Homo sapiens: one gene and its partners. The protein of the gene in region 1 interacts with the protein of each later gene in a pairwise test. Each region holds a gene or a part of one and is shown in the gene's direction. Other genes may lie near its edges.

Region 1 (6,985 bases):
GTTTAAGATGCACCTACTCTATGACCCAGAAATTCCACTTCTAGGTATCCATCCTAGGAGAATGCATGAAATTGTCAAGTGCAGCACTGTTTTTAATATGGAAAACTGGAAACAGTCAAAATGTCAATCAGCCGAAAAATGGATAAATTGCAGTGAATTCAAGCAATGAAAGAGTTTTCAGTAGTTAAAATTCATAAACTGGAGCTATATGAAACAACATGGATAAATGCAAAAAAAAAAAAAAACAAAAAAAGTTTGCAGAAAAATGTGTACAATATAACACTATTTACATAAATTTCTAAAACACACAAGTCGCAATTATGTATTGTTGGTAGACACATTCATAAAAGGTAAAACATACATACAGGTAAAACTGGAAAACCATAAATAGAGGGCTACCTTGAATCAAATGTGGCAAGATCTGACTGGTTGTAGGATTTCAGTTCTGTGTGCATGGTTATTTGTTACGTTATTCTCTGTACCATACTTTTCTGCATGTTTCAAATACTCATATTTTTTTTCTTTTTAATGAAAGGATCTAGGCATTTAGAAATAAGGGTAAAGGGGGATAAATGGCTACATCAGTCCTCAAAGAGGATGATCTCCTGGGATGGGATTAGGAGGGAGGCTGAGCCCTGAGTCCAGGGATTACAGGGATTAATTCAGATCATCCCCCTAGGTTGATCACCTGGCTGACATGCCCACCACTCCTGGCCCCTCAGAGATGCATTTCTGGACCACAGCCCACCTCCCTCATATCTCTTAAGCTCTTTTCTCCCGCCTTTTAACTGCCTCCCTCCGCCCTCAACCCAGTACTGGTCTGGCCAGGGTTTGACCAAGTTTGGCTCCTGAAAATAGACTGGTTCAGGTCTCTCTTAAATGTTCTCCCAAATCAAGGGTGAAAGGTGACCTGCATGCCAGGAGCCAGGGAGAGATTAGTCCTAATACTCAGGATCAGAGCTCCCTGAGGAGAGCTTGAACCCTGGATGTCACCATCGACAATTTCCCTGCTGTGCCTCCCTACATTCACCAAGAGGTCAGCAGTCAAGGCCAACCGCTAACGTGGCCCTGCTGGCGGAGGCAGAACCAGGAGGAGCTGCGCTGGGCAGAAAGAACAGCCAGTAAGCTTCCAGAACTAGTCTTTGCCAGTTCCCAGAGCACTGCATCCCTCAAGCCCCCAGTGCAGCCCCTTTCTACCACCCCTGACAAATGCTCTGCTCCCCAAATCTGGACAGGCTTGGCGTCTGCAGTAAACCCTCTGCAGAAGGGGTCTGGGTGGGCTTGTTCAACTTTCCCCACAACTGTGTCACCTTGGCCACAGGATCTGGAGTAGAATCTTGTCATCTGGGAGCAAAGAAAACATTCTTGATCTCTGCTCATCATCTCTCTGCTGAGATAATGAGAGAGGCAGAGGAAGAAAAAAGGAGCAAGGAGTTGGGGGAGGGAGAGAGACTTATGGGCAACATCATCATTAATAGGCAACATTTAACACCACAAATATGAAATCATGTTAAATGATAAGACAGGGCATTAACTGGGTAGCTGGGAGATTGACCTTTAACTCATTTATCCTGTGTCAGAAACTCTGTCAGATGCTGGAAATACAAAGATAACTAAGATCCCCCTAACCTTCAGGAAACTGGGCAGAGCCCGGACAACCCGGAGGGCCTGGTGCTGTTACAGACAAATAGGGGCGAGCACCACAAAAGCGCCTAGTGGGGCAGGGATGGGGTGCCAGTCAGAGAAGGCCACCTGGAGGTGACCCCCAGCTGAAAAGGAGGGGGAAGTCCAGGCAAAGAAGGGCTTCCTTCCCGTGGAACAGGGATGGCTTGTGGACGTGGGAGCCTGTGGGATGTCAGAGACATTTGAGCCAGAGCAACTCCATCTTGAATAGAAGCTGGGTAAAATGAGGCTGAGACCTACTGGGCTGCATTCCCAGACGTTTAAGGAATTCTAAGTCACAGGATGAGATAGGAGGTTGGCACAAGACACAGGTCATAAAGACCTTGCTGATAAAACACCTTGCAGTAAAGAAGCCGGCCAAAACCCACTAAAACCAAGATGGCAGTGAGAGTGACCTCTAGTAATCCTCACACTGTTACACTCCCACCAGTGCCATGACAGTTTACAAATGCCATGGCAACATCAGAAAGTTACCCTACATTGTCTGAAAGGGGGTGTCAGGAATAAACCACCCCTTGTTTAGCATATCATCAAGAAATAACCAAAAAAAGCAGCCCTTGGGGCTGCTCTGTCTATGGAGTAGCCATTCTTTATTCCTTTACTTTCCTAATAAACTTGCTTTTAGTTTATCCTATGGACCTCCCTGAATTCTTTCTTGCGTGAGATTCAAGAACCCTCTGTTGCGGTCTGGATCCGGATCCCTTTCCTGCAGCGGGGGGAACGCAGACAATACTAGCCCTCGACCTGTGAGTGGATGTGCCAGAGAGGGGATCCGCGTGTGTCCCTGGCTTAGGAATCTTCCAGCCATTTCCTGGATGTGCTGGGGAGCCCCTGTTCCCAACTGTGCCCACTTCTATCCTTGCCGAGACCTGCCGAGATGTGAGAACTGCCTCTTCAAGAGCCGGCACCCAGTAGTCATAGCCTGAATAAACGAATGGTTGAAGACGTGAAATAAGCCCCCTGGGCTTCCAAATCTCCCTTCCACGAGAGTGAACATCAGTCGTGCCCACTCTGAGCGGGCTACTGTGGGGGCGTGGCTCGCAGCCCACCGGGTGTGGGACCGGAAGGGAAGACAGGGCGGAGGAGAGGGGGTCTTCCGGCCCTGAGGCTTGATGGGGCCACCGGAGGGCTCCTCCTAAGAGGGTCCTTGGCCCTGGCTCGGTGGGGGGTCGCGGAAAGCGGAGAGGTCAGGGCCCTGCCGTTCGCCCATCCGGGCCTCGACTTCCCTCCTCCGGCCCCCAGGCTGCCGAGGGGCCACCGGGCAGGGGTGGGCAGGGCCTGGGGCCGGAGTCAGCGCGGACTGCTAGGTGGGGGCGCCGGCCGGGCGGGGGAGGGAGGGAAGGAGGGGCGCGCGTGTCTGCGCTTTTGGAGGAAACAGTCCCACCTCGTCCTTTGCCGTCCCCATTGCTGAGCATGACCGGGCCCTGACACCTGGTGCAGAAGGGTCCCTGGGCACAGCAGACCCCGGGGGGACCCGCCGCCAGAACCAGGGGATCTCGCTCCTCCCTCTTGGGGCAGCCATAAGCCTAGGAGCTCCTGACGCTGTCCGGGCCCCGCGGCTCCCCGCGCTCTCTAGGGGAGAGCCTTGGGGCGTATCCGGGGTCGCGCTCACCCTCCCGCGCCGCCCCCTGCACGGGCTCGGAGCTCCCGAGTGCTGGGAGGGCTTCCGGGCGGCGGCGAGCGGCGGGGGGCGGTGTCAGGAGGCCCGGCCAGGCCCCGCCCCCTCGTCCGCCCTCCCTCCCTCCCTGCGCACCCGGCTCGGGTCCCCGGGCTCGCGGCTGCGGCTTCTGCTCAGGGAGGCGGAAGGCGGCGGCGGGAGCGGTCATGGAGGCGGGCGCCGGAGCCGGCGCGGGAGCCGCGGGCTGGAGCTGCCCGGGCCCAGGTCAGAGCCGCCCCTCCGTCACCTGTCTACCGCCCCTCCTTTCTCTCCTCCATCCCTCCTCCTTCCAGACCCCCAGGTGCTCCCGGCCTCCGCGGCTCCCCTTTCTCCGCCCAAAGTCTTCCTCCCTCCATCCTGGCCTCCACCGGGGCCCGGTCTCCATCCTTCCGGCCTGGGACTGAGGCTTCCGCGCACCGGCCGCATCCTGCCTGGTGGTCCCTCCCCAGCGCGTCTCTCCACTTCAGTCCGACGGTGCTTCCAGCCTTCGGGACTGCAGACCCTACACCTCCTGCAGCCCCGGAGACTCCTGAGCGCGGGGCGAGGGTGGGGTGGGCAAGGTCCAGCGAGAGAATGGGAGGAGAGGGGAGGGGAGCGGTCGCAGCCCTACCCCTTCCCGCACGCCCCCCACTCCTCCCTCCCTCCATCTGTAGGCCACCTCAGCCTTTCAGCCTCTTCTTCACTGGCTCCCGCCCTCTTTCAGTCTTGGCCCTCTCCTCCCTGTCCCCCCGGACTAAATACGCACACCCCCTCTTTCTTTCTGTGCAAGCAAGAGGGTCCTGGAACAGCGGGTTCTGAGGAGGCTGGGAGGCAGGGCTGAGAGGTGGCCGAGAGAGAGGAGTCGCAGAGCCGCCAGAGTGAGTCAGGCACCTCCACTGGGATTACAGATCCCAGAGCCTCGAGGAGCTGGAAGACATGTCCCCTTCTTTCCTCTGCACCCCAGCCCGCAGCCAGCCCCCCACCCCCCAGCCCCTCCTTTCTCCCTGCTCTCAGGACCCACAGTGACCACTCTAGGCTCCTATGAGGCTTCCGAGGGCTGTGAGAGGAAGAAGGGCCAACGCTGGGGGTCCCTGGAACGACGGGGGATGCAAGCTATGGAGGGTGAGTTTTCCCAAAAGGCTTCTTTCTTTCCCCTCCCCTCCTCCCTTAATTCCCTTCTTTCCTCCCTCTGACCCCCAGGCCTCTGAGCCAGGACACAGCCCTTCCCTCAGTTCATCTTAGCCCCTCTTCCTGCAGCTCAGAGCTCCAGCCCTTCCCAGGGCTCAGGCTTTGACAGAAGTTCAGGATGCATCCCTTCGGGACCCCAATCACCCCCCAGCTAACCAGGTTATGTGTCCCGAGGGAGCTGCCAGACAGAGAAAGAGGCCTTGTTGGACAGAGCTTTGAAGCAGCCTTTCAGCAGGGGGTTTGTCCTCACTGCCTGCCGACCCAGATCCCAAGCTGTCTCTTATTTTAAAAAGCAAGGAACTGGGCATGTGAATTGTCTTTCTGGGGCCACCAACATTAACTTCGAATGGAAGCCTGTGGCTTTGGTTCTTTAGGATACCTTATTGCCTGAAAGAGAGAGCCTAGGAGGGGGCGCGTGAGGCCATCCTCCCAACACACGTGTATCCCCACCACACCCATGTGACTTGGCAGTTGCTGCCAACACCAGGCCCCTGGAAGGACGCTGGTCCATTTGCCAGTACTTCCTGTGAAGTGTTGCACGTTGCACATTCAGTATGGGCAAACCTGCTCCCCCTAAGGGGGACAGATGGCACGAAGGGTCCCAGTTGAACCTAAGGCTGCTGATATTAGATAAAGTAAGACCAGAGATTCAGAATTTTAAAACAAAGCAAACAATCACCATCCAGACAACATTTTGCTATTTATAGGGACTGCGTTGCAGTAAAGGAGCGGGTGCTCACAACCAGAGGCTGGGGGCCAGCACCAAACCCCAGTTTTTTTAATGCATTAAAATGGTAGGCTTTCTTTTACACACAAGTACAGCCTAAAACTTCCCCTGAAATCTACTTTGTGGTCAGCAGAGTAGGAGGGGCCTCATATGGCTCAGCTAGGGGAGAGGAGACCTTGTGACATGCAGCAGGGAAAAACAAGGTGGACCTTGTAGAAAATTTCAAACAGGTATTTAATAATATACATTTGAAAGGGCGCCCGAGTTTGTCCAATGAAACCTCTACAATCAGATATTTTCTTTCTCTACCTGCTGACGGGCAATGTTTTCTTATTATGGAAAGGCTGATTTTTCACAAGCCACCTGGATAGTTTTTGTTTGGTTGTTTTTGTTTGTTTGTTTGTTTGAGACGGAGACTCACTCTGTTGCCCAGGCTGGAGTGCCAGTGGCTCGATCTCGCCTCACTGCAACCTCCAGTTCCCAGGTTCAAGCGATTCTCCTGCCTTAGCCTCCCAAGTAGCTGGGATTACAGGCGTGTACTACCACGCCCAGCTAATTTTTTTGTATTTTTAGTAGAGAAGGGGTTTCACCATGTTGACCGGGCTGGTTTGGAACTCCTGGCCTCAAGTAATCCACCCACCTCAGCCTCCCAAAGTGCTAGGATTACAGGCATGAGCCAGCATGCCTGGTCAGTTTTGTTTTGTTTTTTAACTTTCAAGAAATCTCCAAACTGTAACTGTTACCCCATTTGACCGAAAGATCCGCTCACTGTCTCCTTTCTTGACTACTTGTCCTGCTACTCAGAGGCCAGCCTAGAAGAAGCAGGTAATCCTGTGCAAGTGTCTCATGGCTGAGCGGGCACCAGCCTGCCCACAGGCAGTGATAGGAGGCTACCAAGTGCAACATTGGTCCAGGAAGGGCCTGGGAGGTGGAGGGGCTGCTTCTCAACTTGACTCTCACACCTGAGGACTCATCTTGAGTACAGGTCTTGCCCCGGGGCTCCTTGGGGGACACCAGGTGGCACTAGTATGTCATCTCTGCCCTGGCATAGTGAGTTTGAGGGCCCTGGAAGGACGGCAGAAAGGAAGTTGATGCTGACTCCTTGGTGGGATGGCTGTGTCTCCTAGGGGAGGTGTTACTCCCAGCTCTCTATGAGGAGGAAGAGGAAGAGGAAGAGGAGGAAGAAGAGGTGGAAGAAGAAGAAGAACAAGTGCAGAAAGGTGGCAGTGTTGGCTCTCTGTCAGTCAACAAGCACCGGGGACTGAGCCTCACGGAGACAGAGCTGGAGGAGCTGCGGGCTCAGGTGCTGCAGCTGGTGGCAGAACTGGAGGAGACCCGGGAACTGGCAGGGCAGCATGAGGATGACTCCTTGGAGCTACAGGGTGAGTGCCTGGGCCAGGGCCCAGTGCCCGGGCCCAGAGGCTCTGCACTCCCCTGGATCCGAGCTTGACACTGGTGCCCCTCTCCCTGCAGGGCTCCTGGAGGATGAACGGCTAGCCAGCGCCCAGCAGGCAGAGGTGTTCACCAAGCAGATCCAGCAGCTCCAAGGTAATTCCCAGGACTTGGACTGGAGGGAGGTGGCCATCCAAGTGGTCACCTAAGTACTTTTTTCCTGAGGGTTTGACTGAAGCACAGCAGATAAAAATAACCAAATTCAGTAATTTCACCTCATTTTCCTCTACTAGTCTCACCCTTTTCCTCTCCTTGTCTCTCCATCCTCCTCTGTCCCCAGTTTTCTTTCTTTGCACATC
Region 2 (7,026 bases), on another chromosome or scaffold:
CACTGATAATCATCACTTTCTTGGACTTTTTTACTTATATTAAGAATACTAGGAATTGGCTTTTTAAAGTTTAAGTTCATTTTGACTAAGAAAAATAATTATCAGCTGGGAAATGTTAACTATATACACATTCAGGAATATATAACAGCAAACTGTTTGGAGGCTAAGCCACTGATTAAGTGAGCCTTCTCCCGTTCTCCCACTTACCGCATGCACATTGATTCAAAGGCATGTGTCAGCAGCTGACAGATGGTGTTTCACTGATCTATAGGGATACTCAAGCATAGTCAAAATCAAGAATGCTAAATCCCCACATACCAAGGGCCTGCCCCAAAGGATGGTAGGGAATTGTCTGAGTTCATTTTTGACATGTTGGATTTGAGAGGCTTCTGTAGGGTATCCTGGTCCCAAATAGGCAGAAGGAAATTCAGGTCTGACACTTGAGATATCTGACCTGAAGAATAAGGAAATCATCAGCATAAGGACAGTAATTGAAGTCACAAAAATACTTATACTCTACATTAGCCCTTTCTAGTTTCTGCCCTATCTTTCTTGTTCCATTCAATGTATTACTTTTTTGAAATTTGTCATTTATGCTCACTCTCCATTTTCTCATTTCCTATGGCAGGCTAGCTATTCTCACTACCAAAATTACCTTCACAGAGGTCACTAATGACATCTTTGTTTTTGAATCAAGTGTCTATGCCAGGTCTTAGATTAATTCACCATCTTATAGCATTTCACACTCTTGAACACTGTGCTCATATCATTTCCCTTATAAATCAGTGAATTCCTTCTGTTCTTTAGAATTATCTCATTTACCTCAAAACTTCTGTGAATTAGGTATTATCTTCATTTTACAAATGAGTAAACTAAGTCCAAAAGGATAAGTTACTTGCCCCAGGTCACAACATGTAAGTGACAGGGCTGGATTGGAACCCAGGCCTGTCTAAGGCCCAGGGTCTTTCCACCATTCCACATTTACAGAAATAGACCTCCTTGACCTTCTGGATACTATTGTCTTTTTTCTCCTCCTACCTTTCCAGTTCCATCTCACTTCTGTTTCTTACATGTAGATGTTTCCCAGGATTCCGGCTCCATATAACGTTTTCCCAGCCATAACTAACTACTACACTGAACATCCAACAGCTTTATGGTGTCTTTTTTGTCTGAAAAAACTTTCTCTATTTCCTTGTCTTTCACTTGTCTTTTTTCTTTTCTTTTTCTTTCTTTCTTTCATTCTTTTTCTCTCTTTTCTTCCTTTTTTGATATAGGTCTTGCTCTGGTTGCCCAGGCTGAACTCAGACTCCTGGGCTCAAGCAGTTCTCCCTCCTCAGCCTCCCGAGTAGCTTGGATTACAGGCATGTGCCACCATGCCTGGTGTCACTATGTTGCCCAGGCTGGACTCAAACTCCTGGGCTTAAGCAGTCTTCCCACCTCAGCCTCCCAAAGTGCTGAGATGACAAGTGTAAGCCACAGTGCCTAGCCTCAGTTATTTTGAGGGCTACAAAATGGTGATTTTTCAAATCTATTATTCCTTCTACATTAGATGGTATTCTGTAAGATAGTTTTTTCCTTCTGTATGTATGTTTAGAAATGGTTGTTTTAGAGAGAAAAAATGGATAATAGGAAATGTATAAACCCAAGAAAATGTTACTGTTCTTGTTAGCAGTACTATTACTGTTTCTGTCACTCTTGTTACTATAATTTTAGGAGTGTCTCTGAAGATACAGTCCAAAGAAAGTTCTCCAAAACAAGGAGAACAGTCTGAAGCTGGGGATGGCAACAGCATTGGTGAGTGCCCATTCCCTGGCTCCCCTGAATCTGAAGAAGGAGGGGCTTCGGGTAGTGAGGGAGGATCACTACTCTACTTGGGAACAGGGATTCAAGCTGCAAGGAAACAGTAAAGGCCTTGGACAGGAGCCATTGTGCAAACAATTCAGGCAGTTGCGTTATGAAGAGACCACAGGACCTCGAGAAGCACTAAGTCGGCTCCGGGAGCTCTGTCAACAGTGGCTACAGCCCGAGACCCATACCAAGGAGCAGATCCTGGAGCTGCTGGTGCTGGAGCAGTTTCTGATCATCCTGCCTAAGGAGCTCCAGGCCCGGGTGCAGGAGCATCACCCAGAGAGCAGGGAGGACGTGGTTGTTGTTCTGGAGGATTTGCAGCTGGATCTTGGAGAAACAGGACAACAGGTGGTAAGGGTCAGATGTGCTCTTTTTCAGGAATGCAGGAATTGAGATCTCTGGCCAGACAGGTGGACATGGGCTCATCAGCGGAAGGAGAATTACTAAGCTTTGATTCAGTTTTTTTCCAGTCTAGCTGTTAATTTCCTTAGGTCTTACCTCAACCTTACCTGGCCCTTGCTTGGAGAAAACTGAATGTGCACCAGATTCCCCATCTTCTTTTCTTTGCCCCTCTGGGGTTTCTCTTTCTTCTCTTTTTTAACACCTAGGTGTTTTACTGAACAGCAGTTTCCTAAACCCACATATATCTAATTATGCCTCCATATACCTAATTGTCCCTAGGACCCAGACCAGCCAAAGAAACAAAAAATACTTGTGGAGGAGATGGCCCCTCTGAAAGGAGTACAGGAACAGCAGGTTCGGCATGAGTGTGAAGTTACAAAGCCTGAGAAAGAGAAGGGTAAGAATTGGATTGCATCTTCTGTGTGTGAGACGTGGTGGACTGTGCCTTTCCCTCTGAGGTTGTGCTTAGCACCCTTGTATTTTGTTTTTTGCTTTTGTTTTGAGTCAGGTTTACTGAAGCATAATTTATATGTAGTAAAATTCACTCTTTTTAGATGTACAGGTCAATGAGTTTTCACAAATGCGAAATAATTGTGGTCTAATCAGGACCACTATCAAGAGATAAGAGATATCTATCACCCCAAATATTTTAGCTGAACAAAATAGCAAGAAAAGGGTACAAAGGGAACCTGGACCTTCACCTTGCTCTTCTTCCTCTTACTGTAGGGGTGAATAAAAAAAGCAGTGCCAGGCCAGCTACTTGGGAAGCTAAGGGAGAAGGATCACTTGAGCCCAGTTCAAGGCTGCAGTGAGCAATGATTGTTGCACTGCACTTCAGTCTGGGCAACATCTCTTAAAAAAGCAAATAGTGGCCAGGCATGGTGGCTCATGCCTGTAAACCCAACACTTTGGGGGGCCAAGGTGGGTAGGTATACGAGGTCAGGAGTTCAAGACCAGCCTGGCCAAGATGGTGAAACACTGTCTCTACTAAAAATACAAAAATTAGCCAGGTTTGGTGGCGGGTGCCTGTAATCCCAGCTACTCGGGAGGCTGAGGCAGAGAACTGCTTGAATCCAGGAGGCTGAGATTGCAGTGAGCTGAGATCACGCCACTACACTTCAGCCTGGGCGACACAGCAAGACTCTGTCTCAAAAAACAAACAAACAAAAAAAAAAACAAGTACTGCTAGTTTCTTAATCAAGGCAAAGAAAGCCACATGCTTCATTACTCATTTTTTAACATTTCCTTCAAATTATTGTAAATGGCCACTATCTTTCATTTCTAAACGTCACCTGGATTTTTTTTTTTTTTTGGTTCTATACTTTCTTTTTTGTTGTTTTTCTATTGAGACAGGGTCTTGCTCTGTCTTCAGGCTGGAGTACAATGGTGCAGTCATAGCTCACTACAGCCTTGACCTTCCAGGCTCAAGTGATCCTCCCACCTCAGCCTCCCAAGTATCTGGGACTACCGGTGTGTGTGCCACCACACCTGGCTTTTTATTATTATTATTTGTAGAGACAGGGTCTCCCTCTGTTGCCCTGGCTGGTCTCGAACTCCTGGTCTTAAGCATTTCTCCCATTTGGGCCTCTCACAGTGCTGGCATTATAGGTGCAAGCCACTCGCCCAGCCTCCTTTATTTTCTTTGTCACTGAAATTCTTCTTCCTAATTTTTGCTCCTTACATTTTTTCATTTCTTCTTTTTTTTTTCTGTCATAGAACTAATTACATTATATTGCAGTTTCTAGTTTGCTTCTCTTTTTCTCTTGCCAGACTAAAAGGGAAGGGGTTTTGTTTTGTTTTCTGAGTCAGCTACAGTCCCTGGCCTAGTGTAGACCCTCAATAAATGTCTGTTTGATGAATGACTGGTTTTATATGTAAAATCATGCTTTACATGCTACCTATTCCTCTGTTCAATTTCCAAGTCAGCTTCAAATTACCTTTCTTCTGGGAGCATCCTGAATAAAGTAGCTGAAAGAAAGGGGCCTACCTTTTCTCAATAGCCTTGCAGAAATGAATTAGCCTTGCAGAAATGATTACCATGTAATCAGTGATGGGTGTATAGTTTAAATACAAAAAGTAAATGTGGCTGCTGTAATCCCACTACTTTGGGAAGCCAGAGTGGGAGGATTGCTTGAAGCCAGATGTTTGAGACCAGCCTGGGCAACATAGTGAAACCCTGTCCTCTACAAAAAATAAATAAATAGCTAGGCGTGGTGGCATGCAGCTGTAGTTCTAGCCACTTGGGAGGCTGAGGCAAGAGGATTGCTTGAGCCCAGGAGTTCAAGACTGCAGTGAGCTATGTGATTGCACCACTGTACTCCAGCGTTGGCAACAGAGCAAGACCATGTCTCAAAAAAAGTGAATGTAATGTCAGTAGACTCTTGAAAATGTCCCTTACCCTCTGGATCTGTTAAAAATGTTATTTTATATTCAAAGTTCAGGTTGTTTTTTGGTTTCATCCTCTCTTGCTTTTTTAAAGTTGTATATGTGATTATGTCATTACTGGAAGAGTCTTATTCCTTTCCCTTAATCTCTCACTCTTGCCCCCTGCCCCTGTGTAGGACTGAATACTTCATTCTGTTGTAGAGGGTCTTTGTACACAGTACATTATTACATTATTTAATTTATTCACTCCCCACCTGTGACCTTCCTTTCTCTGATGTCTCCTTACTAATTCCTTCACTTTCACTTTTCCTTTCAGCTGTCATCCACTCTTTCCTTTTTACTTATCTGCTGAATTAACTTGCTCACACTGATTAACCCTCTTTTGTTTGTTATTAGTGCTGCTTAGAGTCTTTCTTCTATTTTCTCCATCCAGCTTTCCTTTTACTCTCTCATTCTGACTTTGCATCCCCAGTCATGCTCCTAGCCTTTGAAGAGTTATCCTTAGCTACAAGAAAAACTGGTAAATAAAAATATAAAATGAAACAAAACAAAAACTTCACATTCTTCTCACCCGTCTGCTTGTGTATCTGAGCTTAAGTTTTCTCTATTTTCATTTAATTTCACCCTTAGGACACAGGCCATTTATTTAGTAAACATTTGTTTAATGTCTGTTATGTACCAGGCTCTGTGCTAGAGAAAACAAAGTCTGCTCTGCATGTGCTTACAGTCTCTTGGGGCATTGTGCATCAGGGGTGCAGGGAGCGACAGACATGAATAAATTATCATAGCGTTGAGATTAAAGCTCTGTTGAACCACACAGGAGAGCAGTTACTGCTGTCCAAGGAGATTAGGAAAGGCGAAGGCATTTTTGTGAACTTCATGTTATTGTCAAGGTCTTATAGTACATTATTCTTTCTTTATGGATGAGGACACAGAGCCCAGATGATTTACCTTACTTTTTTAAGATTACACAGTTAGTGATAAAATTGGGCACCACATCTACATTTCTTCATTTTCAGTTAAAATGTCGTCCCTTTCTTATGGGCCCTGGGGGCCTCAATTAACCTAGCTTTTTTTATTTTCCATGTGACAAGTTATCTTCAAGACTGTACAGCCATGCCCTTTAAGACAGTTTATTTGCTTGCTTGCTAGCTTCTCTGTGTGTGGTATCCCATGATAAAATTTAAACTATTTAAAATAAGTCACCTCCCACCAGAATTCCCCATCTTTCCCCAAAGACAGTCACAGTTAACAATGTCTTGTGTACCATTCTGTAACTATTTTACGCAATCACAAGCATCCACAATGTTTTTACTTTGCACACATGGCTTCATTATATTTTTTTTTCCTTTTAGTTGCAGATTCCTTTCCCCAAGCATCAAAAGACAAGTAATTGGTGGTATATATTTAATATTGCAGGTGAGGAGACAAGGATTGAGAATGGGAAGCTTATTGTAGTAACAGACTCTTGTGGAAGAGTAGAGTCATCTGGGAAAATATCTGAACCCATGGAGGCTCATAATGAGGGCTCTAACTTGGAAAGGCATCAGGCCAAGCCCAAAGAGAAGATTGAGTATAAATGCTCAGAACGTGAGCAGAGATTCATCCAGCACTTGGACCTGATTGAACATGCGAGTACACACACGGGAAAGAAACTCTGCGAGTCTGATGTGTGTCAGAGTTCCAGTCTTACAGGACATAAGAAAGTCCTCTCTAGAGAGAAAGGTCATCAGTGTCATGAGTGTGGGAAAGCCTTTCAGAGGAGTTCACACCTCGTCAGACATCAGAAAATCCATCTTGGTGAGAAGCCTTATCAGTGCAATGAGTGTGGCAAAGTCTTTAGCCAGAATGCAGGCCTTTTGGAACATCTCAGAATTCATACTGGAGAGAAACCTTATCTATGTATCCATTGTGGAAAAAATTTTAGGCGCAGCTCTCACCTTAATCGACATCAGAGAATTCACAGTCAGGAGGAGCCCTGTGAGTGCAAGGAGTGTGGAAAAACCTTTAGTCAGGCCTTACTCCTCACCCACCATCAGAGAATCCATAGTCACTCCAAAAGCCATCAATGTAACGAGTGTGGAAAAGCTTTCAGTTTGACCTCAGACCTTATTCGACACCACAGAATTCATACTGGAGAAAAACCTTTCAAGTGTAACATATGCCAGAAAGCCTTCCGACTAAACTCACACCTTGCTCAGCATGTAAGAATCCACAATGAAGAAAAACCCTATCAGTGTAGTGAATGTGGAGAAGCCTTCAGGCAAAGGTCAGGTCTTTTTCAACATCAGAGATATCACCACAAAGACAAACTGGCTTGATGAGGTGTTCTCTCCTTGTAGAACATCAGAGAAGGCACATTGACTAGCAAACAGCACTTTAGGAAAAGTC
Region 3 (7,026 bases), on another chromosome or scaffold:
ATGGTTTGCAAAGTTGGCTGACTCTAGGAATCACCTAGGGAGCTTTTAAAAATCCCCAAAGCCAAGCCGCCCCCCAAACCCATTAAATCAGAATCCCTGTGGTGGGACTCAGGCACTGGAATTTTTGAAACTTCCTGTGGTGATGCCGATATGCAGCCAAAGTTAAGATCCACTGATTTAACCAGTGTGGTTTCTGAGGATGAGAAGGCTCCATCTAGGACTAGGAATGGGATTTATTAATAGTGATTGTTAATAGCAGCTAACAGGGTGGTCACACTGCCATTCCAGGGGCACCATTCACAGTTTAATCTATAGGAGTTGAGGACTTGCTGTGAGGTACCCAACCAGCCTGTTGTATGTGGCAGCCCTGGTAGCCAGCCCCAAGCGCTCAACTCTGTACGAGGCATTTGCCAAGCACCTTGCAAGTATCACCTCGTTTATGATATCACAAGTTCATGGAGGAGGATTCTAATGTAACGCTCATTTTGCAGAGGAGGAAACACCAGATCAAAAGCAGCTGTCCCATCTCAACTCTGCTGTTCAGTGGGAAACAGCCATAGACAATAAGTGGGCGTGGTGTGTCCCAGGGCTGTGGGATTTGGTCCAAAGGCTGTAGTTTCCAGGCTCCAGCTCCAGAGGGTAGGGAGGCATGGACAGAGCTGACATTCGAATGCAAGTCTGAATGGCTTCAGCCTCCCTATGCTACTGCTTCCTCCTGCATTTCTTTAACAGCCATGAAGAATACAAACAAGCCACTTACCTTTCTCCTTCGTGATTGGCCCGCTCCTCCTTCTCCCTGCTAGCTCTTCTCCTGGGTGTTCACCTTTTTCTTTCCAGAGAGGACATGTCTAATGCCCACTTCCCCTCTTAGCTGCTCCACAGCCACTCCCCGGATGGACCCCAGAGTCTTGGATCTCTCGGGATGCCCAGAAGCCTTGGGAACAACCCCAGTCCTCTGCCTCAGGAGGCCCAGCTGACCGCCCAAGACAGCCTGGATTTTCTTGGCCTGCCACCTGTGCTTTATTGAGTAGTCTCTTTTATAACAGGACCTGCATGAGGTTCTTCCACCCAGAGACCTTGGTTAAATAAATTAAAAGGCAGAAAGGCTGGCTCAGCTTTCTAAGTCCTGGGGGTCCCCAGCAACCCTCCTCACCCCACCCCTCATAGGTGTATACGTGGATCTCACAGGGGTTGTTTGCTGGGGTTCAGCACCCTGAGTGGCAAAGGCGATGGTTTTTCCCCTGCAGCTCTGAGCTAAGGCACCAGCCACATCCCTCAGGGTTCCTGCCTCACCCACCACACCAGCCTGGCCTCAGGGAAATACCATCATCCACAGCTCACTGCTGATTTAATTAATTTTTTTTTTAAGGCCTGGAGCAAGTCATTGAGCCAGGGCTGACCACAGATTGGAGCTGGGGTGCAGGACTGGCTTCATAATTGACAGGGCCCAGTGCAAAATAAAAAAGGAGTGCCACTTGTTCAAAATGCATTTGGAATTTCAAGACAACAACAACAGAAGGTCAAACCAAACAGGGCCCCTCTTCCAAGGGCAACCCTGTGTGACTGAGTCCGACCGTCTGGCCCTGGGGCAGCCAACCCACTGGCTGGCCGGCAACTTACGTATGGGGCGAAGGTCTCAGCCAGGTCAATCACAGATTTTTCCCCTGGAAGTTAACAGAAGAGACAGAGACCACCCATTGGAAGTGAAGGAAACCAAAGTCAAAACATCCCAAGGCCTCTGATGGTTTCCCCACACAGCAGCGAGAATAACCTTTTTATAACTGAATCAGGTGCGCCTTTCCCCGACTTGAACCCACCCGTCCACCCTCACTCCAGGCGCTCTCCCAGTCTCTCAGCTCACACCACTCCCAGCACACTATGTCTTTTTGTTCCCTGAACAGACCCAGCTTGTTCAAGGTACATGAGTCACACATGCTGTTCCCTAGGCCCCAAATGGCCTCCTTCCTCATTCTCAACTGTCAGATCTTAATGTCGCCTCCTCAGAGAGGCCCTCACCACACCTGGCTGACAGCGGGTCCCTCCTTAGTCTCTATGGGAGCCTGGAGCCTTTTGTGGTCTTTCGTTTTCATTGGCTTGTGTGTGTGCTGACTGTTGGCCTCCCCAGCAGAGTGTGGGTTCTGTGAGCGCCGGGATCTCACTTGTTTAGTTCTCCTCTGTGTGTCCAGTGTCTACCACAGTGCCAGGAAAATCACAGGAACTCGAACATGTGTGGAATGCATGACTATTTTTATTATTACGCACTTTCTCAGTGGTCATTCCCGTTACTCAGGAGCTCTTGATTTTGTGTACTTATTTTGTATCTGGCCACATTCTTGAACTCTCTCAGTTTCAAATGCGTTTCTGTTCATCCATGTGGGAATTCTGGGTGTATGGCTTTATCTATACAAATATTAAGGCTGCCATCTCCTTTCCTAAAGTTATCCAACTTATTCTATTTCCTACCTTATCACTTTGGCAACATACAGTGAGTTCTTTTAAGGATGGTGTGGCTGATGAAAAGCAAGCAGCTCTGGAAGATTTGGGGGGCACAGAGGGACTAAGAACAGGTGAATAGCTGGGGAGCCAAAGTAGTTATTAAAGTGTGGCATGAGCTGAACAGGAAGAGAGCTGAGGTCACGGGAAGGAAAGAGCGTAGCTGAGAATTACTCAGTCAAAGGATGGGCGACACTTGACAATAGGAATAGGCAGCAAAAGAGAGAAGATCTCAAAGCTCCAATCTGAATCCAGGTGTTCTAATACGTAAGCACCCAGAGAGCTTGATCCCACAGACAATAAAATACCCACACTAAGGAGTGGGAGCTGATACAGCCAACTATGTATTTTGTCGAGTGCCCATTTTAAAGTAACTCTAAGTACTATTATGATCACTTTTTAAGGACCAAAAAATTAGGAAGGATATAACCTGAAAGCAAACAGCCTTATGAAAAAGATGAGAAAAAAAGGGAAGTTAATAAGAATTCTCATTACAGAAATGGTTCTGAGAATATGAATTTGAGAAAAAAATTAACATGTCTATCCTCTGACACTTCACCTGGCTACATCCAAAATACCTTATAATAATTAACACTTTTTCCAGGTTACACAGCACCTTTACGTATGTGGTCTTACTTGCTCCTCCTAACAGCAGCCTGTGATGGGTCATCATAGAAATGCCAAACACGGGTCTGGTGGCCACCGTTGCAAAGTACAGTCTCCTGTTTTATGCCCAGATTCCTGACATATCACCTTGCAACGTGCACCCCGTCAAACCCCCCTCTCTGTATTTTCTGACCCCAATAAGCTGTTTGCCACTTTCAGGTTTTCACACATCCCTGTTCATCCATGAAACTGCATTTGGGCAGAGAATGGTTCTCATCCCCTTCCCAGTGTGGGGGAGGAAATGAGAGTCTGTCCACAGGCAACATGGTGGCCCTCAAGCAGGGGCTGAAGCCTGGTGTTTGAAATGGGGACACACTCCCTCAGTTGCCACATGAAAATCACATGCCACCGGGCACTGGTTCCCCAAGACCAAAGAAAACTTCAAAAGTTGCATTGGCAATTACCAACAAATGTGTATTGATCGCCTACTGCATACCAGACCAGACACTGCCAACTGTCAGGGCCTGGCATATAATAGGAGCTCAACCTCTGCAAAGCTAGACTCATGAAGAGAGCAGAGCTAAAGTCTAAATTTTCACTGAAATTCCTATAAGCAGCTAATGGCCAGGCAGTGTCTATACCTTTGAGGCCTTTTTTTTTTTAAGTCAGTCTCTTTCTCTCTCTCTCTCTCTCTCTCTCTCTCTCTCTCTCTCTCTCTCTCTCTCTCTGCTGTATTTGCTTTTGGGCATTTCAAGGATAAGGAGCCAGTTTGTAGAAGAGGGAGCCCTTGTGTCTGAATTTTAAGTAAACTGACAGATTTCAAACCGCTGTGGTAGAAGTGGGGCCATTGAGTAGCCAAACATTTGACAACTATCCCTTTGCTATTAGGGACACAGCAGTCTCTGAATTTCATGCTCTCCTCTTTGATGTGAAGAAAATGAAAAGCTGAACAGTTGTGGAACTGTGGATAGAGTTAGACAATAAGGGTAATACTTTCTTTTTATCACTGCATTTATCCAAATTGTTTTTAACAAGTACATGTTACTCTTTTTAAATATATTTTCCTTTTCTGTTACAAGCTCATTGAAAAACAGAAACTCAAACATAATTCCTTTTATAGTGGGCGAAAACTGTTGCAAAGCCAGGCCAAAAATATGCATGTGTCAACCCGTATTTTGTGACCCGTTATCATTTTACTTCTATACTCCAGACACATCGCAAACATCATCTCCAATTCTGACAGCCCTGTGCATGCGTTCCGTTATGATTTCCATTTTATAAGTGAAGAAACTAAGGCTCAGAAAGTCAGGTAGCTTGCCCAGGTATGCGCAGTAGCAGGTGGCCAAGGTCCATCTGACATGAAAACCTTGCCCTTCAACTGTGTCCCATGGGGCAGGGTGAGATTATAGGCTCAGCTCTGAGCTACTCCTCTGCCCATCTCTACAGCCGCCATGTACTCGGAGATCCAGAGGGAGCGGGCAGACATTGGGGGCCTGATGGCCCGGCCAGAATACAGAGAGTGGAATCCGGAGCTCATCAAGCCCAAGAAGCTGCTGAACCCCGTGAAGGCCTCTCGGAGTCACCAGGAGCTCCACCGGGAGCTGCTCATGAACCACAGAAGGTAGGGATGAAGCCCTGCTGCCTGGGCCCCGCAAGCACCTGGGCCTGTGGGGGATGGGGAAGGTGACCCTGGAGGAAAGCAGAGCTGGCTTTCATCCTGGGGCTCCTGGAGACTGAGGAAGGCTGAGGTGCCCCACATGATCACCGGCAAAACCTGTAAAGACCCTGTCCCCAGTGGGTCCCTGGGAACCAGAGGGACCAAAAAGCCCTGTTCTCTTGCCCAGCCACCCATTTCATGCCCACACTCCAGATACATTTACTGAGTACCTACTATGTGCTGGGCACTGAGCCCAGACCTGGGGATACAAGAATGAATGGGACCCAGTTCCTGTCCTCACAGACAGGGACGGGTGCATAGCCAGGCAGTAGGATGGGTGCATTGATGAGGGCATAAATAGGCCTGAGACCCCAGAGGAGGAACCCGAGAGGGGTCTAAAATGACTTCACAGGAGCGGTGCTGCCTCAGCTATGACCTGAAGGGGGACTGGAGTTAGCCAGGCCGGAGGTGGGTGCTGGATGGCAGAGGGAACCTCATATGTAAATGAACAGGAAACAGGAGTCACTCACTGTGCCTGGGGCATCGATTGCGTGGTGCAGGCCAGGGCAGAAGGATGGACTAAGGAAAGGTCTACAGCAGGGGCACAAGGTGTGGTGGGCCCGTCTGGTGAGGTGGGATGGGGGAGCTCACAATACCAAAGTGGGCAGGAATGTTACAGAGGCCCAGGATGGTGGCTGGCTTTTCCGTGGAAGGCCGTGGTGTGCAATGACAGAGACGAGCCAGAGGGGCATCTGGGAGGTGGCAGGGGTGGGATGGGGCAATTGATGGGATGTGAATTGGAGAAGAGGAAGGCTGAGCCTCCCCTTGGAGGACTGGGAAATACTCCTGCTAACCAGTAACAGCGTGAACGCAGCGGTGCCTTCAGAGCGCCCTCTGCTGGCCGATTCTGGTATTAGAGCCGGTTGTGATTTCTATTCTTGTTTTCAGTTGTGTGACCAATATCCTAACAGTTATCATTTTGTACACTGAGTCGCTTTTGTTTTTGTTTTCAATTAGTATTATAATATGAGCATTTTCTCTGAATGGTTTTTAGACTCGTCCCTTTAATATCAAAAAACATCACCACAATCAAAAACAAAAGCTTAAAGACAAATCAGAGAAAGTATTTGTAATATAAATAAATTTTATTTTTAAAACTCACATATACAAAAAAAAATTCAGATCTCTTGTTTTTTTTCTTTTTTTCTTTTTTTTTGTTTGAGATGAAGTCTCGCTCTGTCGCCCAGGCTGGAGTGCAGTGGCGCGACCTCAGCTCACTGCAAGCTCCACCTCCCAGGTTCATGCCATTCTCCTGCCTCAGCCTCCCAAGTAGCAGGGACTACAGGTGCCCGCCACCACACTCGGCTAATTCTTTTGTATTTCTAGTAGAGACAGGGTTTCACTGTGTTAGCCAGGATGGTCTCGGTCTCCTGACCTCGTGATCCGCCCTCCTCGGCCTCCCAAAGTGCTGGGATTACAGGCGTGAGCCACTGTGCCTGGCCCAGATCTCTTACAATGGACAAGGAAAAAATGAATAAAAAGTAATACAGTACAGCCAGACATGGTGGCTCACACCTGTAATCCCAACACTTTGGGAGGCCGAGGCAGGAGGATCACTTGATCCCAGGAGTTCAAGGCTGCAGTGAGCTATGATTGCACCACTGCACTCCAGCCTGGGCAACAGAGCAAGTCCTTGTCTGTAAAAATAATATTGATAATACAGTTAATTCACAAAAGAAGAAATGCAAATGGCTGGTAAACATATCAAATGTTGTTCCATGTGACTAATAAAGAAACAAATGAAAAGCAGATATTCTTTCTGGCCTACCAGATTCTCAAATATGAAAAGATTGGCTGGTGATGGTGGGGAGAAATAGATGCTCTTGTACACTGTTCAGAGGAGGATACACTGGATAACCTTTCTCAGGCACAGATAGATATATGTACCTCAAATCTTTTTAAAGAGCCTGACCCAGCAATTCTACCTTTAGGAAAGTATCCTAAGAAAATAACCAGAAATAACATAAAACTTGGTCTCTGCAGTCAAACAGGCCTGGGTTCAAATCCTCATGTGGCCTACCTGTAGCTATGTCTTGGACTGGTATCTTCAGCCCTAGGAGCCTCAGTTTCTGTCCCTGTAAAATGGGACAGTAATGGGTCCACCTCCAAGGCTACAGGGAGGATTGCACAAGATAATAATGGGGGTTGGTGTCACCGCAGGAAGCAGCCCTGAGGCTGGGGGAAGCGGGAAGGTGATGGTCTCCTGACAG
Region 4 (7,026 bases), on another chromosome or scaffold:
ATTGAACCCAAGTGAGATGAAAACACTCTGTCCCCCTCTCCTTCTCTCTCTGTCTCTCTCTCTCTCTGTCTGTCTCTCTCTCATATATTAATTCATGATAGTGTTATTCAAATAGGCTCAAATTGGTAAGAACTGAAATGCCCATCTTCTCATCAATTGATTAAAAAAACTATATAGTATACAGTACTATCCAGCAATACAAAAGAGTGAACTGTCGATACAACATGGAAGTATGGCGGAAACATCATGCAAAGTGAAGTAAGTCAAACACAGAAGTCTACATATGATTCTATTAATATGAATTTCCAGAAATGACAAAACTTTTTTGACCAGTGGTTTGCCTGGGACCCAGAGTCTGGGAAGGGCTAAAGAGAGATGAAGGAACTTTTTGAGATGATGGAATGTTCTATATTTTAAATAGGGTGGTGGGTTATATACTCGTATACAGTTATCAAAGCTCATCATCTGTACCCTTAAAGTGAATGCATTTTACCTCAATAAAGCTGTTAGAAAAAAAAAAATCCCCTCATATTCATAGGTAATGTTTCTTTGCTTCTGTTTATATACATTAAATTTTTTTCTCGTAAATTTAAATGAACTTGTTGAGATTATGCTACAGCTTATTTAAAATAAGTTCCACCTGGGGAGAAAATGTTTGCTAAGGGGACAAAGTAATAAGTTCAGTGGGGTTGCTGTTTTAGATGAAATGTTTAGGGAAGGCTTTTCTTTTTTTGATAAAAGGACATTTGAGTGGATACAGAGTGACATGAGTTCACTTAATGTTTTCACGTCTTGTCCATTTCTTACTGAATTTCTGTCTAGGCGTTTTGTAGTTTATGTTGCTATTACAAATGAGATATTTTTCTTACCTTATTTCATGGGCTAATAATCTTTAAATTACATTTGTTTGCATTTTCATTGCTTCTAATCTCCCATTTGATTTTAACAGAGACTATGCAGGTCATTGTTGTGTGTGTTAATCTCTGTTTTTCCTTAGCTCAGTGTAGCTTCAAAATGTACATAGAACCTGAAAGAGACCTGAAATGGAAACCAAAGATGCAAGTGCAGTGTTTTGTAACATAATTTTAATTTTACTGTCAAATAGAACGAGTATAGGATACAAATAAGGATGGTGGCTGAAGGGTGGGAGAAGTGAAAAGAAGGTATTCTTAAATTTCACTTGCAGATTAAGAGGGAATGTCTGCCAGCAGTTGACTGGCCAGGTATAGATTAGAAATGACCTCTGGCAAGATGTTTTGTTTCATTTGAATGGGAGGGCATCTTGTAGATTTCACGCCTGACTTTGAACTTCTGGTAAGCGATGCACCTGGAACCGGCTTGAGTGACTTAAGGGCTCAGCAGTATCTGCCCGGTGGAAACATTAGTGTCATGCTCATGCCTTACCAGCAGATGGCAGCAAAATGCTGTGTTAAAATGTTCTTACCCTACTTAAATTTAAGTCCTGTGGTAAACAGATACTGTATATTTTTCTTTCAGTTAAGACCAAGGTAGATATAATGCCCTTATTTCCCCTAAATAGATACAACTAATACTACCATTGTGTACTGACACTTTACAGTAAATGTTTTTAGAAATCTACATGATATGGCTTACCTAAAAACATCTTATTTTGTATAGGTTTTGTTAGCAACTCCTTCACTGAAATACTTTCCACAGTATTGTTATTTTACATATAGTTTTCTGCCTCAGATTTTTCTAAGAGAACCATTTGTCATAATATGTTCTAGACCTAAATAACGTTTATTAAACAATACGTGAGTTTTCACTCACCTGTGGAGGCTGTGTGTGTGTATGTATGTGTAGGTGTGTGTGTAAAACATTAATGATTTTTTTCTTTTATTAACAAGCCAAAAATTAAGGTGACTTTTACAAGAGAGCATTTTCATCCTGGGTAGTTAGGTCTGATCAATTGATCTTTTACATGGAATTGCTGACTTCTAGGAGGTGCCCGGCATAACCAGTCCTCGTCCGTCTTCTGCCCCCAGCCAGGGATGCCATGGGGTGAACGCCATCAAGAACCAACCTTTGGCTTAATGAAAGATCTGAGGCCAGTGACAAAAGACTGTGACTTGAGTCACATAGCAGATAAATTATTATAGTTGTTTTTCCTTCCCCAGAGATCAGTCAATTAGGAGAGGTTTTTGGAACTGTTTTAGAAAATATTTTTACAATGCTGAGGTTATTCACATAATGCATTGCTTAATTCTTATAAACTCCAAAGTTCGTGTAAAACTAAGAATTCAGAATAGACTTCTATCTTGTGAAAAAACAATTTGTCAAGATTACTTGACATATATCTGAGATGCTTTGGAATTTTTACAGACCACAGAAAAACTTTTTTTTATTACTTAATATACCCTAAAACAACACGGTGTGCCAGAGCATAGTGTATCTGTAATTTAGAGCAGCAGATGTTGCTACACATGCTTCTCTTTAAGACCGAGAAGAAGCACAAGAGAAAATAAAACAAAAAGTTCAAAACAGAAGAGAAACATGAAACAGTGCAGAGATGAAGGAGTTGAGTAGCCAGAGGCAGTTGGTTAAATTAGCAAAGACAGGGGATGTGGTGATCTGTACTCCGTGTTTTTTGTGTATATCTTTTTAAACACTTTGTCTTTCTCCTTTCATTAACCCAGACGTGATAACATTCTACAAAATTTATTTTCCATTAAAACCAGACTTGAATTAAACTGAGGAAAAACGTACTTGATATTCATTACAGTGTTTGGTTGCTTCACATTTTATATGAGAATTGGCCACAGTTTGCTGTGCCATGGTAATGTTTGTTGTTTTGTCTTGGAGTCTGCTAATACTTTCATTTTGGTTTTAACTCCAGCTGATCCTACAGTTAAAGACTTAATCGGAGGCTTCACGGCTCTTCACTATGCAGCCATGCATGGCCGGGCCCGCATTGCACGCTTGATGTTAGAATCTGAATACAGGAGCGACATCATTAATGCAAAAAGCAATGACGGCTGGACTCCCCTCCATGTGGCTGCCCACTACGGCAGGGACTCATTTGTCCGGCTCCTCCTGGAGTTCAAGGCTGAGGTTGACCCACTCAGTGATAAAGGTACCACACCGCTTCAGCTCGCCATTATCCGAGAGAGGTCAAGCTGTGTGAAAATCCTCCTGGACCACAATGCCAACATCGACATTCAGAATGGTTTCCTGTTGCGATACGCCGTGATCAAAAGCAATCACTCTTATTGCCGAATGTTCCTTCAGAGAGGGGCAGACACAAACTTGGGTCGCTTAGAAGACGGACAGACTCCTTTACACTTATCTGCCCTTAGGGATGATGTGCTGTGTGCACGGATGTTATATAATTACGGAGCAGACACGAACACACGGAACTATGAAGGACAGACCCCATTGGCTGTTTCAATAAGTATTTCTGGAAGTAGTCGACCATGTTTGGATTTCTTACAAGAAGTCACAAGTATGTAATATAATTATTACTTTATTGCATTTTTTAAAAATTTGCATCTTCTGAGGAGCTTAATGTGTTTTTGCAACTTAAGATGACTAGATATTAATCATTCCTATAACCACTGCTTGGTAAGCGATGCCTCATTCTTCTGAAATAAAAAAAAAACTTTGACTGTATCACAAGATTTCATAAAAATTCAATTGTGTTTCTAAATGTAATAGGGGTAGACAGTAAGAGTGAGGGAAGGAATGGAGAGAAGGACAGAGAGGAGAATTTTTTTTAAATGAACAAAGATCTGTGTTAGAACAAGGCAATTCCTGTTGGTCATAAGGATAATCTTACCTGGCTTCCATTGACTGCAAGTTGAGGAGTTAGAGGGGGAATTTTGGATCTTAGATTCCTTACCTGTGAAAATATCCTAGAATTTGTGCTTTATTGCTAAGTTGTTCACGTTTTAATTGTGGCTTTTCTGCTTCATGAGAGCCCACATGAAATGGAGCAGTGGTGCTGTGTATTTAGGGATACCACTCGTGGAAGTTAAGGATGCTAGAAATTGTTGTAAGAAAATATTTGCAGTGGGAAGTTTGGCACCACTGTCCCTGGACCACATGGCTTCCATTGTATTTGAACGTTTTTGTGTGGGTGCTTTTTTTAAAGCCTGGAAGTGTCTGGCCCACTTTGTGTAGTAACGCGTGCGTCCTAGTTGTTCCTCTGATGGGGTATCAGCTTGTGTGTACTTAGCCATCCTCTCTTGTCAAGCTTCCACGTGACCAGTTGAATGTGTGTCTCATGCTTAATGTCCACCATGAAGCTAAAATCTGTAAACAAAATGGATTTTGCTGTCTGCTGAACTTTTTAATGAGTTCCTTTTTCCTCACTGGTTTTGAGCCTTCGGTCATTATTATACAAGAGGACATATTAACATCCTGGGTACCAGCTACTAGAGGGCAAGGGCTCTACCTGACCTGCTTGTAAGTAACCCACTCTACCCCTTGGAGCGGGCCTTTGGAGTACACATTTGCTTTATGAAGAAACAAAATGTAATTTGAATTTTGCAGATTCATGGAAGAAAAGATGCAATTATTATCACTAATGTTTTCAGACTAAAGCGTAAGAAAAAATCACACTGCTTAGTCTACTTAGTGCTGGCCAGTACCAGTTTCTGTGATGTTGGAAATGGTCTCTCCTTGCTGTCCAGTATAGTAGCCACTGGTCCCATGTGGCTGCTGAGCACCTATTAATGTGACCGTTGCCACTGAGGAACTGAAATTTCAATTTTATTTAATTGCGATTTAAGTTTAAATGGCCACAAGTGCCTGGTGGTTCCTTTGTTGGTCCACACAGATCTGCCTGCCTTGGGAGAGGTATCTGGGGCTGACTGGTGGGTGTTCCATTGCAGAAAGCTTCTGAGACACACAGAAGTCGCCACAGTTGGGAGACGTGATACCCGCAGTGCTGCAGTCCTGCTTGCCTTGTTGTTGTTCTCTCAACTTCTACATTAGAGACTTAGTTATGATGAGTGTGGCCGCCCTTAGGAAGGCATGTTATATACTCACTTAAATGCCTCAGCCCCCTTTTTTAAAATACTTTGTTCAGTGGTTAATGGCATAGACTAGAGCTAGACTGCAAGAGTTTGAGCCTTAACTCTATCCCATGTTAGCTGTGACCTTGGGCAGGTCGCCTAATCTCTCTGTGCCTTAGTGTCCTCACCTTCAAATTAAGATAATACAGGCTTGTTATGAGGATTAAATGAGTTAATATTTATAATGCACTTAACACTTAAAATGTTCTTGTTCTTTGTAATTGTTTTTCAAGGTGAAGTGTGTAACTAATAAAGTGAGGGGGGATTAACAGCGAGGACTGGCTTGCCACCAACAGAGCAAATCTTTAGATTCATATTCAACTCAAGCCTCCCAGTTTCAACCCTGTATACAACTGTCCAGAGTCTGTACATGGAGGCACGCAGCCACGTGGCCGAGAGGAGCCGCTGGGCAGGACAAGCACGTGGGCGGCTGCCGTGTGTCCCTGAGCCCTCAGAGCTGCCCCTAGCAGTGCTGTTGGACAGCAGGAATGTTGAGTTAAAGACTCACATGCACTTTAAAATTTGAGCAGATAGAAATGTCAGTGGGGACTGCCTCTGTCTGTGCTTAGGTTCTCCACTGTACGAGGAGCAGAGCTGTGCGCCTAGGAGGTCCTCAGTAGTCCTGGCAGTCTGGCTGACTGCGCACAGCGAGGGGTGGGGACTGAGGAAGCACAGGCTGCTTTCCTGAGTGCAGGGTCCTCCGTCTGTTAAGGCTCCAGTTGTCCTTTGTCTTCAGGTGCCTCAACATAATTTAGTATTTCTTGACTCTCCAGTGGTGTTTCCTGCCAAAAGCAAATTTGGTGTTTCTGCTTCACCTGTGTGTTCTTTGGCTCTAAATAGGTTTTCTTTTCCTGGTGAACAATATGGGCTAGAAGGAGCAGCTGTGGCTGATGCTCTGGACTGAGCTTTCTCATGAAAAGCAGCTTGAAAGAAGGTTGGTTGGTTCAGGGAGCACTAAATCAAAGCTGAGAGCTTCTTCTAGCCCGCGTGCTGTGGGCACCGCAGCCCCAGGCATCATGCTGTTGGCTTATGATTGGAGATCGCAGACTGCCGAGGTATAAGGACAGCAGAGGGGCCACATGGTGGTCTTCATTCAGGGACATTTTACTCTTCATCACACTGTTTTGCCTAGAAACAGATTATTTAAATTGGAAGAGACCAAAAAAATTATAATACCAGAATTTAAAAACTCCTCTGGCCTTTTGGAAAAATTGCCGTAAAAACTCTGATCTATATAGTGCAAAAAAAAAAAAAAAACAGAGCGCACCCGTGGCTTGGTAATAAACTAACATCTGCTTGTGACTTGTTAGTGCTGAGTAGGGGGAGAGGCCATGAAGAGCTGCTGTTGCTGTTCCCTACAGCCAGCCCGCTGTCCAGCATTCAGACCTCAGAACCTCCCCCTTCCAGGACGTCAGGAGCGCAGCAGGGCCCATCCATGGAGGAGCCACTTCTCTGTGCCCAGGAATGATAAACACAGCTAAGAGGAGCCATAGCACCTGCCTGAATAATGAGCGCCACCTGTGGGAGGAAAGCTGCGTCCTGCTTAGTTGGCAGTGTTTATAAGAAGCCAGTTTTTGGTTTTTTACTTGTAGCCAAAAAAAAAAAAAAAAGAATGGAATGAATAAATTAAAGAGAGAACAGTGAAGGTGTGACCGATGTCAAGTAGAAATGGTAGTGACGGCTGGGCGCAGTGGCTCATGCCTGTAATCCTAGCACTTTGGGAGGCTGAGGCGGGTGGGTCACCTGAGGTCAGGAGTTTGAGGCCAGCCTGGCCAACGTGGTGAAACCCCATCTCTACTAAAAATACAAAAATTAGCCGGGCATGGTGGCACATGCCTGTAATCCCAGTTACTTGGAAGGCTGAGGCAGGAGAATCGCTTGAACCCAGGAGGCAGAGGTTGCAGTGAGCCAAGATTGTGCTACTGCACTCCGGCCTGGGTGACAAGAGTGAAACTCTCTCAAGAAAAAAAAGAGGAAAGAGAGGAAAGGA

Evidence for each region.
Region 2: the proteins of CCDC136 (region 1) and ZSCAN26 interact in binary tests that used the Homo sapiens proteins (3 or more experiments, as listed by UniProt).
Region 3: the proteins of CCDC136 (region 1) and FAM107A interact in binary tests that used the Homo sapiens proteins (3 or more experiments, as listed by UniProt).
Region 4: the proteins of CCDC136 (region 1) and ASB7 interact in binary tests that used the Homo sapiens proteins (3 or more experiments, as listed by UniProt).

Annotation. Positions count from the first base shown.
Region 1 is NC_000007.14:128,787,987-128,794,971, forward strand, and holds the start of CCDC136 (coiled-coil domain-containing protein 136), read left to right. Parts: upstream 1-3,981; 5' UTR 3,982-4,333; coding exon of another isoform or gene 4,334-4,425; coding exon 4,426-4,441; intron 4,442-6,361; coding exon 6,362-6,616; intron 6,617-6,707; coding exon 6,708-6,782; intron 6,783-6,985. UniProt on the Homo sapiens protein: May play a role in acrosome formation in spermatogenesis and in fertilization.
Region 2 is NC_000006.12:28,270,141-28,277,166, forward strand, and holds part of ZSCAN26 (zinc finger and SCAN domain-containing protein 26), read left to right. Parts: intron 1-1,713; 5' UTR 1,714-1,779; coding exon 1,780-2,199; exon of another isoform or gene 2,200-2,529; coding exon 2,530-2,647; intron 2,648-5,990; coding exon of another isoform or gene 5,991-6,054; coding exon 6,055-6,956; 3' UTR 6,957-7,026. UniProt on the Homo sapiens protein: May be involved in transcriptional regulation.
Region 3 is NC_000003.12:58,567,385-58,574,410, reverse strand, and holds part of FAM107A (actin-associated protein FAM107A), read left to right. Parts: exon of another isoform or gene 1-1,076; intron 1,077-1,620; exon of another isoform or gene 1,621-4,085; intron 4,086-4,545; coding exon of another isoform or gene 4,546-4,550; coding exon 4,551-4,720; intron 4,721-7,026. UniProt on the Homo sapiens protein: Stress-inducible actin-binding protein that plays a role in synaptic and cognitive functions by modulating actin filamentous (F-actin) dynamics. Mediates polymerization of globular actin to F-actin. Also binds to, stabilizes and bundles F-actin.
Region 4 is NC_000015.10:100,626,580-100,633,605, forward strand, and holds part of ASB7 (ankyrin repeat and SOCS box protein 7), read left to right. Parts: intron 1-2,857; coding exon 2,858-3,463; coding exon of another isoform or gene 3,464-3,471; exon of another isoform or gene 3,472-3,630; intron 3,631-7,026. UniProt on the Homo sapiens protein: Probable substrate-recognition component of a SCF-like ECS (Elongin-Cullin-SOCS-box protein) E3 ubiquitin-protein ligase complex which mediates the ubiquitination and subsequent proteasomal degradation of target proteins.